Linked DNA regions of Homo sapiens: regions 2 and 3 are each linked to region 1. Evidence: fine-mapped QTL for protein levels in blood plasma. Region 1 holds a variant in brackets. A gene starts in each other region. All regions are shown on their reverse strands.

Evidence for each region. PIP is the chance, under the fine-mapping model, that this variant and not a neighbour inherited with it causes the effect. Protein levels are from antibody-based Olink assays in UK Biobank. Linkage for the fine-mapping came from a reference panel and not from the study's own genotypes, which makes the PIPs less certain.
Region 2: IL27 starts here. The variant in region 1 is fine-mapped to the plasma level of the IL27 protein (UK Biobank, PIP 0.98).
Region 3: EBI3 starts here. The variant in region 1 is fine-mapped to the plasma level of the EBI3 protein (UK Biobank, PIP 0.98).

The regions. Positions count from the first base shown.
Region 1 is chr3:12,227,806-12,232,088 of GRCh38, reverse strand. No RefSeq gene overlaps it. Among named protein-coding and RNA genes, the nearest start is that of PPARG, 59 kb to the left of the region's middle. The variant T/AT (reference allele first, on the strand shown) is at 1,671.
Region 2 is chr16:28,503,225-28,507,224 of GRCh38, reverse strand. It overlaps IL27 (interleukin 27), which reads left to right and starts at 391. Exons shown (of 5, transcript NM_145659.3): 1 at 391-444; 2 at 3,175-3,347; 3 at 3,432-3,530. The coding sequence starts at 414.
Region 3 is chr19:4,227,676-4,231,925 of GRCh38, reverse strand. EBI3 (Epstein-Barr virus induced 3) reads right to left here and starts at 2,403. Exons shown (of 5, transcript NM_005755.3): 1 at 2,309-2,403; 2 at 603-735. The coding sequence starts at 2,375. RefSeq lists enhancers at 629-1,130, 2,094-2,183.

The sequences.
Region 1 (4,283 bases):
ACAAGCCAGTTGTTCATAAGCTAACACTCTTGCATGCGTGGTGAGATACAGAGCATTCTGTCCCACCCATTAAGGCACGCCATGAAGAATTAGAAACAAAACTATCAAATTAGTTAAAAAACAGAACAGGTTGAGTCTGTGTGCAAGCAGTCTTAAAGAATCAAGACACTCTGGAAAGATGAAGGATTGATTGATGAGCAACATACTCAAAGTCTATCAAAGACAGATTTTAGCAAAAGGACGCCGGGACTAGGGAGAATCCAATAGAGCTTGAAAATGAAAGACTTGACCAATTAAAGAAATGTGCTCCTAAAGTCCCCAGAAGAGGCCCAGCCTGTGAGTATAGTATAAAATAAGAGTTTGATGGATGAACATACCAGGGCTGAAAGATGATTCACACAGATCGAAGAGCCTCCTTGCATGTGGTTTGGTAGTTGCCATTACACATGTCTATCTCAGCTGCACACAGTCCCCCTGGAGCCAGAGGAGCTCATGTTAAAAGTGTTGCTATGGGCTGAATTGCATTACCCACCCCCCAAAATGCCTATGTCGAAGTCCTACCCCCTAGTACTTCGGAATGTGGCTGTATTTGGAGATAGGGCCTTTAGAGGAGTGATTAAATTAAAATGAGGTCATTCCGGCAGGGCCTAATCTGATATTACTGGTGTCCTTCTATGAACAGGAAATTTGGACACAGACAGCTACAGAGGGAAGACCACGTGAGGACACAGGGAGAAGGTGGCCGTCTACAAGCCAAGGAGAGAGACTGCAGGAGAAACCAACCCTGCCAACACCCTGATCTCGAACTTCCAGCCTCGAGAACTGTGAGACAATCAATTGTTGTTGTTTTAGCCACCCAGCCTGTGGTACTTTCTTATAGAAGCCCTCACAAACTAATACAATTGCAACATACACCTTTATTTATTTAGCAAACACTTATATAGAGCTTACTATGTGTCAGACACACTTCTAAGCACTTTACAAATATAATTTAATCCTCGTAGCAACTCTGCGAGGTAGGGACTACTATTGTTCCCCTTTTAAGGATGAGGAAACCACAGCACAAAGAGGTTCAGTAATTTGTCGCTGTCTCCTACTTAGCATTAATAAGTGAAGGAGCTGGGATTGGAACCTGGGTGGTCTGACTCGAGTCCACTGAATCCCACCCTACACATTCTCTGTTGCGTTGTCTCCTGGGATTTAACTAGGGGCTCCAAGGTACAGGCTAAAACTTGTCTCCATGGTTATAAGTGTGTGTGAGTTTTTAAAAACCTAACACCACAGGGTCCCTTACTGCCAGGTGGATTGAAATCACATTTCATAATGTTTTTCTAGATGTTTAAGCCTCATATCAAGGGAAACAATCCAGGATTCCTGCAAAATATCTGCCGGTCCTTCATGAGAGGCCTCTGCAGGCCTGGATGAACAATTCTCATTTCTTACCTAGCAACATTCCACAGAGGTACGACAGGGTGATATTGTCTCCTGTTAACAACACAGATAACTTCTTCTAGTTATGCAGACCTTGAGGAATGGCACTAGAGGCAGCGTTCTGCAGCCACACAACACGGCATGGAGTCCAAGGACTTTTCTTTCTGCATCCTTGTCTGCAAACAGACTGCCAACCAACCCATGTGCAGATGCTTGATTTCAAAGTGTGAAAAAAAAAA[T/AT]CTTTCTGCAAAATCAACCAGAGAAGCCAAACTTAATTAATAAACATTCTAGAACATGAGTAACTGGCGCTGGGTTCAGAGGGGTAGGACTCACTGCAGGGAAAGAGGGAACCCTTTATCCTTGGCCAGGAAATGCAAGGGCTTTGAAGCTTGGTGTTGTCTTAAGTGGTATTTTCCACGAGGAGCACCAGAGCTGGGCCGCAGTTCAGTGGGGAGAGTTCATTCCTTTCTAATTATTAAATGGAAGGAAAGTACACATGTCCAACCTGCTGAACATGCCACTTCAACCTTGCCCGCACCGGGCCGCAAACCTTCCCACACCCTGCCCTTTAGAGTTTCAGGTTTAAGGCTTTGTTTGCAGTTGTTCTCTGCTCAGAGTCATATGTATGGGAGCCAGAAACACACCTCTTTCCTTTTTCCCGTTGCAGCTGACTCACTTGTAGCTTTTTATGGAGGTGACGGAGAGAGACCAGGGAGGGCATGAGAGGCCAAGATGGCGCCAGCGCAAGTTTGGACTTTAGTGAATCAACATTCTTAGTGATTGAGAGACAGAGCTGAGGGAGGGGCTTCTTGTGGCGCATACACTCAGCAGCCTTTCCACTTTCCTCAAGAGCTGATGCTGGACCCCACATTACCCAGGGACCATCTTGATAGAAGGTCAGCAGCAGAACCTGCTGCAATCGTGACCAACGAAATAAAGCCCAAAGTACACTCAACAAAAGCGGGGCAGTGACAGGCCACCTTCCCTACGCCATTTCCCCTCATGTCCAGTCAAAAGCTCAGCTTCCTTAAAACGATCTATGTGGTTTTCTATCTTGTTCTAATAGGAAGCCTTGCACTTTTTTTCTCCCCTGCATTATCTCGGGTATTTCTAAGCAGGCCGCAGTCCCAAGATTTCCACTGCAGAGAAACACTAAGCAAGCTTGTTGGCAGTGTCCTTTTGTTCTGGGAGCCAGCTCTGCCCCAGGTGTTCTAATGTTGACATGTGCTGCAGGGAGCCGACTTAGAACATCTGAGAACAAAAGGAGAAAAACATTATGAAACGTGATTTCTACCTGGATATGCCAGATAGGAAGGAAACATCTCTGTAAGAAAGCAGGTCTCAGCCTGAATCCCAGTGCCCTAGGGAAGAATGCCAGGAGGTTAGTGGCGGTGATGGTGGTGGTGGGGGCTAGTGCAGAATGAGGCTCAAGAATTTTTAAATGAGGCCACCTGGCTCCAGACAGGCAGCAGGACACTAAAATACCTGCAGTACCTTAGGTATCAGCACCCACCAAACCCCTGGGAAGGATGTGGGTCATTTTGGCACAGTCCATTCACCTCTGGCAAATACAAGAAGCCACGTCAGATTCACCCACACCAGACACAGGAGAACACTTCTTAAGAAGCCAGTTCAGAACATTCCAGGAGAAGCCAGGGAAAGATTTTTATAACTCAGATCTTTGTAGATCTGTGATATCTTTGGAGATGTTGCTGCAGAATGGAGTTGTGATCAAGGCTGGGTTTGGCTTTTTCTCTGGGTAGTTTAACCCAAAGGGAAGGCTTTGGAGAAGTCTGGTTCTTCTTGCTCTCTTCACCCCGTCCCCAACCCCCTCCATTAAACTGAAGTTCTTTATCACTCCCTTTAGGAGATATGAAAACACAGCAGGTAGCTTTATGCTCCTTCAGGTCCTCCCAACTCGAATAGCAACATTGCTAGTTTATCATTTCCAGCTAAGTCAGGCAATACCTGCTATGCAGGATTTCCAGGCAAAATAATTTACTGCAAGAAACTGTCAATTGCTTGTCTGCCTTGGTGACTCCAAAGAGATTGACAAAGACCAGAGATATGAAAGGGAAATATTTGTGAAATAGAATCCCCCAGCTTGGCACCACTCTTATCTTTTTTGAGTAATTCTAAGACGCTTATTCACGTCGAAAGCTCACCCTGATGGCCCTCCCTGATGAATATTTGTATAATTGGATATTCATTTGTTACTTATTTAATTAACCAATTTGTTTAGATGGAACCCAAGTTTATGGGAAGTGAACCAATTTGCATGTACTTTTTGGTCAGAAAAAGAGGTTCATCCTACCACAAAGCGAGGCTAAAATTCACACAGAGATGTATGTTATGTGAGGCATTTTATAAAAGGAACGTGCACATGTCCTAACAATTATTTTAGTACATTGGGTTCACCTGCAGCAGATCAAATGGTCTCATCAAGCTTAAAAAAAAAAAAACTATTGATGAAAGTGCCTAAACATTTTCTCACCCAAGCTAAATTGCGTTGGTCAAATTTTGCTGATGGATTGCATAACCGAATTAGGAACTGGGAATGCCAGAAACCCACTTGAGGTTGACAGAGCAATGAAGTTAAAATAACTGTGGTCACCAAAGTACTGAGTCAAGAAAATTCTCTTGGTTCATGGAGTGATTTGGAGAGAAAGTAAAAGGAATTCAGTGGTTATGTGGCAGAGTACCAAGCTTTCTGAATCAAGAGACCTAGCTTCAAGTTCCAGCTTTTGTCACTATTACCCAGCTCTGTGACTCTGGGGAATTCACTTCTCCTCTCCGGGCTTCATCTGTGGTATCAGGGACTTAGATCAGGTGATCTCTAAGATCCCTTCGAC
Region 2 (4,000 bases), not on the chromosome of region 1:
GCAATCCCCTTACCTGGCTATCCATCTTTGGAAGGACAGTAGACCCTAGGATGATGGTGGCAGAGCCGAGAATCAGGAGGGGGTTTGGGACTCTGGGATCAACCAGTGAATAGGGCTGGATGGCTCACCCAAGCATGGGACATTGAGGACAGGGCTGGACGTGGGAGCTTAGCAGTGAGTCTGGAGCTTGGATGTCCCGAAACCCCAGCTTCCCGTCACCCCCCATCATACCTCCCACCCCCTCCGGGAAGGGAAATTACATTTCCCCATTTTAGCAAGGGGTGGCGAGAGGGAAGAATGAGTGAACACAAAGCTGAAAGTACAAGCAGGACGGAAAGTGAAACCGGGCACAGCCCCCAGTATAAGACCCCCCCTACCCAGGAGATGGCTGACCAAAGAGGCTGGGCCCCGCCATGGGCCAGACGGCAGGCGACCTTGGCTGGCGTGAGTTTGAAGCCAGGGGTGGGGGGCTTGGTTGAGTTTGGGCAGAGAATGGACGAGCTTGGCTGGTGCAGATGGGGGGTCGAGAGCTGAGAGCAGCAACTTGGCCAAGACTGAGGATTCGGCTGGCTGCTGCATGGGAAGGGAGGCTGGCATGACTGGGTGGGGGCCTGGGGCAGTGGGGTGGTGGTCTGACCCAGGGCTGGGCAGAGGATGAGAAGGAGGCCTTGGCTAGTGGGAATGGGGAGGGTTGGACCAGCAATTTGACAAGGACCAGGTCTAGGCAGATAAATGAAGAGTTTGGAGTGAATAAGCAGAAGCCAAACAGCTTGGCTAAGACTGAGAATGGGGCCGGCTGGAGGAAGAGCAGAACGAGGTGCTGGCACAAGTGGAGCACTGGGACCAAGATGTCAGCAGCCTCACTGGGTCAAAGGTCTTTAGTTTGATGTTGGAAAGAGGTCCAATCTGCGGCTGGTGGCTGCAGAACTCAGGGGCTAGAACCAGAGCAGTAGGCAGTGGAGAAGGTAACATGCCACGTAGGGCAGGTAGGGACCAAAGGCTGGAGGATGGAGACAGAGCCTTCAAAGGCCAGAGCCAATGACCCAGGATCAGCTGCAGAGGGTAAGGAGGGGGTCTGGGGTCTCCAGAGGTCAGGTTGGAGATGGCACAGCTCACTTACGGTTGGGCTTGATCCACCAGGGCCTGGGGGCACCCACCCTGTCCCCAACATTGAGCTAGGAAGAACCCCACTCTGCCTTAAGTCTCCAGGATGTCAGAGGGTCCGAGTGGCCCCAAAACCAGGGAGTCTGAATGCCAGAGATCTTACGTTAGGCATCGCCCACCACATCTGCAAGCCCACGAGGGAGGTAGATGTCCCTAGAAGCTCCCCTTCACCTTTATCAGGGGACATTTCGAAGAGCAGAGCCCAGGGGTTAGAGATTGAGAGAGGACAGGGAAGAGGCAGGGAGAGAAGGGAGAGCAGGATGGACTTCGGGCCAGTTTTGGTTTGTGTTTCGAGGAGAATTGTGTAACTCTTGTGCTTGCTAGATTTCCTCTCCCTGAGGGGGAAATTGATGAATGCTGCCCTCTTCCTAGAGCGCCCATCCGCTGCCCCTCTTTCCAGGAAAACACAGGTCAGGAAGCACACTCGGAATTCAGCCATTCTGGGCTGGGCGCAGTGGCTGATGTCTGTAATCCCAGCACTTTGGGAGGCCAAGGCAGGCGGATCACCTGAGGTCAGGAGTTGGAGACCAGCCTGGCCAACACGGCAAAACCCCTCTCTACTAAATATAATAAAAATTAGCCAGGCGTGGTGGCTACTCAGGAGGCTGAGGCAGGAGAATTGCTTTAACCTGGGAGGTGAAGGTTGCAGTGAGTCGAGATCGCGCCACTGCACTGCAGCCTGGGTGACAGAGTGAGAATCTGTCTTAAAAAAAAAAAAGCTCCCATACTGTGGATTCGCCCCAGGCAGGTTACCCTGCTAGGATCCACCTGCCGTGGTGGAAACTGGACAAACCTGTCCTTTTGACTCCCTGGAATAGAGCCTCTGGCATTGCCAGCCCATCCCTGGGGACCTCATGGCCAGTTCAAGCCATCAGAGCCGCTTGGCTGAGCCCAAAGAATCCTTGCCAGAACATGGTGTGCCCACTCCTGGGGCAGATGGCTGCCTCCCTCTGCATTCTCTGGGGAAAACCCATGGGCTCTGCATTTGGAAAAACCTGGAATCCAGTCCTGGCTTCCCACCTTCTGGCTATTTGACCTTGGGCAAGTCAACCTCACTGAGCCTCACCTGCAAATTGGGGAGAACAATAGCACTGAGGCTGCCACACGTGGTTGTGCAGGTTGCTCACTGAAAAAGGCATTTGGCCAAGGGAGTTTATGGGGGTCAAAATCCAGTCTCTGTCCCGGCACAGTGGCTCATGCCTGTGATCCCAGCAATTTGGGAGGCTGAGGCGGGAAGATCTCTTGAGGCCAGGAGTTCAAGACCAGCCTGGGCAACATAGTGAGACCCTGTCTCTACAAAAAAATAGAAACAGTTAGGCACAGTGGTGTGTCCCTGTGATCCCAGCTACTTGGGAGGCTGAGGCGAGAGGATCACTTGAGCCTAGGAGTTCAAGGCTACAGTGAGCTGTGATCACACCACTACACTCCAGGCTGGGTGATAGAACAGAACTCTGTTTCAAAAAAAAAAAAAAAGGATCAGGCTTCTGGTCTTTTTGCAAAAGTGGGCACACCATGCGGAGATGCCATATGGGGGCCGTGCTGGCTGCATCGTGGGGTTTTGTTTTGTTTTGTTTTGTTTTGTTTTTTTGAGACAGAGTCTGGCTCTGTCGCCCAGGCTGGAGCACAGTGGTGTTAGCTCACTGCAGCCTCTGCCTCCCAGGTTCAAGCGATTCTCCTGCCTCAACCTCCTGAGTAGCTGGGATTACAGGCATGCACCACCACGCCCAACTAATTTTTGTATTTTTAGTAGAGACAGGGTTTCGCCATGTTGGCCAGGCTGGTCTTGAACTCCTGGCCTCAGGTGATCCGCCCGCCTCGGTCTCCTAAATTGTTGGGATTACAGGTGTGAGTCACCGCACCCAGCCTCCATTGTGGTTTTGAGGAGGCAGAGGAATGATGCTGGTCAAAGTGCCTGCACCGTGCTCACAGCTAGCACAGGCTCAGAAAAGGCATGTTCCCTTCCTTCTCAAGCTCTCTCCCTGTCTTGCCACCCTCTTCCCATCTCTCCAGGGCTCAGCCTGTTGCTGCTTCCCTTGCTCCTGGTTCAAGCTGGTGTCTGGGGATTCCCAAGGCCCCCAGGGAGGCCCCAGCTGAGCCTGCAGGAGCTGCGGAGGGAGTTCACAGTCAGCCTGCATCTCGCCAGGAAGCTGCTCTCCGAGGTTCGGGGCCAGGCCCACCGCTTTGTAAGTCCCCCTAATGCAGCTGGCGCTGGAGATGGGCAGACCCCCAATCCCTTCTGGCCCCCACTAACAGACCTTGCCCCCCAGGCGGAATCTCACCTGCCAGGAGTGAACCTGTACCTCCTGCCCCTGGGAGAGCAGCTCCCTGATGTTTCCCTGACCTTCCAGGCCTGGCGCCGCCTCTCTGTGAGTGAGGGCTGGTGGAGTGGGGCGGGAAGCTTGTGATAGGCTGGGGCCAGGGTGCAAGATGAGGCTGGAGATTGAGCTGGAGATGCATTGGGGATAGAACCTGGATAAGGCTGAATATGTCATTGGACATAGAGATGAAAGACAGGCATGGTGACTTACACCTATAAACCCAGCACTTTGGGAGGCCCAGGTGGAAGGACTGCTTGAGGCCAGGAGTTCAAGACCAGTCTGGGCAACATAGTGAAACTTTGTCTCTACAAAAAAAAATTTAAGAGTTAGCCAGGCATGGTGGTGTACACCTTTGGTCCCAGCTACTCAGGAGGCTGACATGGGAGGATTGCTTGAGCTCAGGAGTTGGAGGCTGCAGTGAGTTATGATCCTGGACTCCAGGATGGAGAACAGAGGGAAACCCTGTCTCAGAAAAATAAATAAACTGCCAGGCGTGGTGGCTCATGCCTGTAATCCCA
Region 3 (4,250 bases), not on the chromosome of region 1:
AATTGTTTTTAGAGACAGGGTCTCACTATTTTGCCCAAGCTGGACTCAAACTCCTGACCTCAAGTGATCCTCCCACATCAGCCTCCCAAAGTACTGGGATTACAGGCATGTGCCACTGTGCCCAACCCAGGAAGTAGTTTTTTTTTTTTTTTTTTGAGATGGAGTCTTGCTCTGTTGCCCAGGCTGGAGTGCAATGGTGCCATCTTGGCTCACTGCAACCTCCGCCTCCTGGGTTCAAGCTATTCTCCTGCCTCAGCCTCCGGAGTAGCTGGGATTACAGGCATGAGCCACTGCACCTGACCAATTTTTAAAATTTTTCGTAGAGACAGTGTCTCACTACGTTGCCCAAGCTGGTCTCAAACTCCTGACCTCAAGCAATCTGCCCACCTCGGCCTCCCAAAGCGCTGGGATTACAGGCATGCACCACTGTGCCTGGCCCAGAAAGTATATTTCTATTGGACGGGGCCGCCCTAGAATTCCATAGGCCTGGGGTTCAGGATGTCGGGGTCTCCAGTTTTCCTGACCCCAGGGCTCTCAGGGCCAGAGTTCTGGGCTCTCCAGGAAGTCCAGTGTCCCTGAGGCCCCCTTCCAGGCTCTCCGACCTGTACGTGGCAATGAAGGACACGGGGCTGGTGGAGTTTGGAGCAGGCGGCAGGGTCCAGGAGCAATCCACGGCGATCGGGTACCGAGAGGCTCGGCATTGCACCCGGGGCAGTGTCAGAGCTGCTGGGGGCCCTGGAGGAAGACAGAAAGAGTGAGCTTCTGGTTTACCCCCAGATTGTCATAGCCCTCCCGTGCGCTGGGCTCCTGCCACGTTGCCAGCCAGCACCAGGTACATGGTAGGTGCCTAATAAAGGCTTTCGGAATAAATAGGTACATGGACAAAAGTCATCTGTCATCTTTTATCCCCACTGCAATCCATCTAGGTGAGGACTACTAGCCCATTTTCCAGATAGGGAAGCTGAGGTTTAAGCATCTACAGAGAGGAACTCGGGTAAGAGAGAGAGATTTTACCGTGTTCTCTCTTTTGTAATTGTTTTTTTTTTTTAAAGAGGGAGTCTCCCTCTGTCGCCTAGGCTGGAGTGCAGTGGCGAGATCTCGGCTCACTGCCACCCCCGCCTCCCGGGTTCAAGCGATTCTTAGCCTCCCGAGTAGCTGGGATTACAGGCATGTACTGCCACGCTTGGCTAATTTTTGTATTTTTAGTAGAGAGGGAGTTTCACCATGTTGGCCAGGCTGGTCTCAAACTCCTGACCTCAGGTGATCCACCTGCCTTGGCCTCCCAAAGTGCTGGAATTACAGGCGTGAGCCACCAAACCCAGCCTATAAATTATTATTATTATTATTATTTTGAGACAAGGTATCCCACTCTGTCACCTAGGCTGGAATGCAGTGGCACAATCATAGCTCACTGCAGCCTCCAATTCCTGGGCTCAAATTATCCTCCCACCTCAGCCTCCCAAGTAGCTGGGACTACAGGCACGTGCCACCACATCTAGCTAATTTTTTAATTTTTTGTACAGATTGGTGGGGTCCGGTTTCACTATGTTGCCCAGGCTGGTCTCGAATTCCTGGCCTCACGATCCTCACGCCCTGGCCTCCCAAAGTGCTGGAATTACAGGCATGAGCCACCATGCCCTGCTGTAACCATTTTGTCTTCAAGGACATGGAGATGTTCTCTAGTGCAAAATGAATGAATGTCGGCCGGGCGCGGTGGCTCACATCTGTCATCCCAGCACTTTGGGAGCCCGAGGTGGGTGGATCACCTGAGGTCAGGAGTTCAAGACCACCCTGGCCAACATGGTAAAACCCTATCTCTACTAAAAATATAAAAAGTAGCCGGGCATGGTGGCGGGCACCTGTAATCCCAACTACTCGGGAGGCTGAGGGAGGAGAATCTCGCTTGAACCCAGGAGATGGAGGTTTCAGTGAGCTGAGATGGTGCCACTGTACTCCAGCCTGGGCGACAGAGTGAGACTCTGTCTCAAAAAACAAAACCAAAAAGAAACCAAAGGAATGAGTGTGACTCAAATTCGCATGTCTGTGTAGCTATGTCTGTGTAGCTCTATGGATACCTCTGAGCTGTGACTGCCAGTCCCTATCACCCACAAGGTGACATCCTTCCACCCCCAATGTGGCACTCTGCCTCTCTGTGCCTCAGTTCCTCCATCTGTACAATGGGAGGGTAACCCCATCCCACCATTGGGCACGGGAGGATGTGATTTCCCACCCCAGACATGATCCGAGGCCAGTCCTCGTGTCATGTCCGTCTGCCTGGGCCCCCCAGTCCCCCAGGGGCCCCACATACCTTTCCTTCCACTGCAGGGCGGGCAGCTGGCCCAGAGGACAAGGGCCAGGAGAAGCTGCGGGGTCATGGCTGCGGCCAGCTCTGCTCTCAGGAGTGGGTGGGAACGTCGTGGGAGACTTGAGAGGGGAGGTGAGGACTTGGGACCTGCCCAGGGGAAAGCCCAGCCCAGGGTCAAGGCCCGCCCCCTCCCCGACTTCCTTCAGGTCTGACTCACTGGTGGGGCTCGTGGGGCCGCTAGGGAGATGAATTAGGGTGTGGAGGAGCCCCAGCCCCCTGGGGAGCACAGGCCACCCCTGCTCGGAAGGCCCCGAGGGTGGGGGCGGGGGAGGAGGCTGTGAAAGGGAGAAGTGGAGACCTGCTGGCTTTTCCCAGCACAGCATGTCCTGCTGGCCTTCCTTCCGCTGCCCTGAAGCGGGGGAAACCCCAGGCAGGCAGGCAGGGGCTCAGGGACATGGAGGGAGACAGAGGCAGAGATGGGGGAGAGAGGCAGAGAGACAGAGAAGACAGAAGGAAGACACAGAGAGACAGGGAGATGACAGAGACAGAGACACAGAGAGAGACACAGATGAGAGAGGCAGAGAGACAGAGACAAGAAGAGGAGGACACAGAGATAGAGGGATACAGAGACAGGGAGATGACAGAGACAGAGACAGAGAGACACAGATGAAAGAGGCAGAGAGACAGAGACGAGAGGAGGAGGACACAGAGATAGACAGGGAGATGACAGAGAGACACAGAGACACAGATGAAAGAGGCAGAGAGAAAGAGACGAGAGGAGGAGGACACAGAGAGAGAGAGACAGAGACAGGGAGATGACAGAGACAGAGACAGAGAGAGACACAGATGAGAGAGGCAGAGAGAAAGACAAGAGGAAGAGGACAAAGAGATAGAGAGACAGGGAGACGACAGAGACAGAGAGAGATACAGATGAGAGAGACAGAGATGAGAGGAGGAGGACACAGAGATAGATAGAGACAGGGAGATGACAGACAGAGAAAGGGGCATGACAGAGACAGAAACACAGAGAGAGACACAGAGATGAGAAAGGCAGAGATGAGAGGAGGAGGACACGGAGATAGACAGGGAGATGACAGAGACAGAGACAGAGACAAAGATGAGAGAGTCAGAGAGACAGATGAGAGGAGGACACAGAGATAGAGGGATAGAGAGACAGGGAGATGACAGAGACAGAGAGAGCTACAGATGAGAGAGGCAGAGAGACAGATGAGAGGAGGACACAGAGATAGAGGGATAGAGAGACAGGGAGATGACAGAGAAAGTGACAGAGATACAGATGAGAGAGGCAGAGAGACAAATGAGAGGAGGACACAGAGATAGAGAGAGACAGAGACAGGGAGATGACAGAGACAGAGAGAGATACAGATGAGAGAGGCAGAGAGACAGAGACGAGAGGAGGAGGACACAGAGATAGAGAGACAGGGAGATGACAGAGACAGAGAAAGGGGGATGACAGAGACAGAAACACAGAGAGAGACAGAGATGAGAGGAGGAGGACACAGAGATAGATAGGGAGATGATAGAGACAGAGAGAGACAGGGGAATGAGAGAGACAGAGACAGAGATGAGAGGAGGAGGACACAGAGACAGAGAGAGACAGGGAGATGATGGAAACAGAAAGAGAAACACAGAGAGCAGACAGACAGAGGAAGAGAGACAGAGGGACAGAGATAAGAGAGGAAGACAGAGATAGGGAAATGAGAGAGACACAGAGACAGAGATAAGGGAGGAAGACAGAGAAAGAGAGACACAGATGGGAAGATGAGAGACAGAGACAGAGAGACAGAGATGAGAGAGTAGGATAGACAGAGATAGAGAGATGGTGGGGCACGGTGGCTCACGGCTGTAATCCCAGCACCTTGGGAGGCCAAGGCAGATGGATCACCTGAGGTTGGGAGTTCGAGACCAGCCTGACCAAAATGGT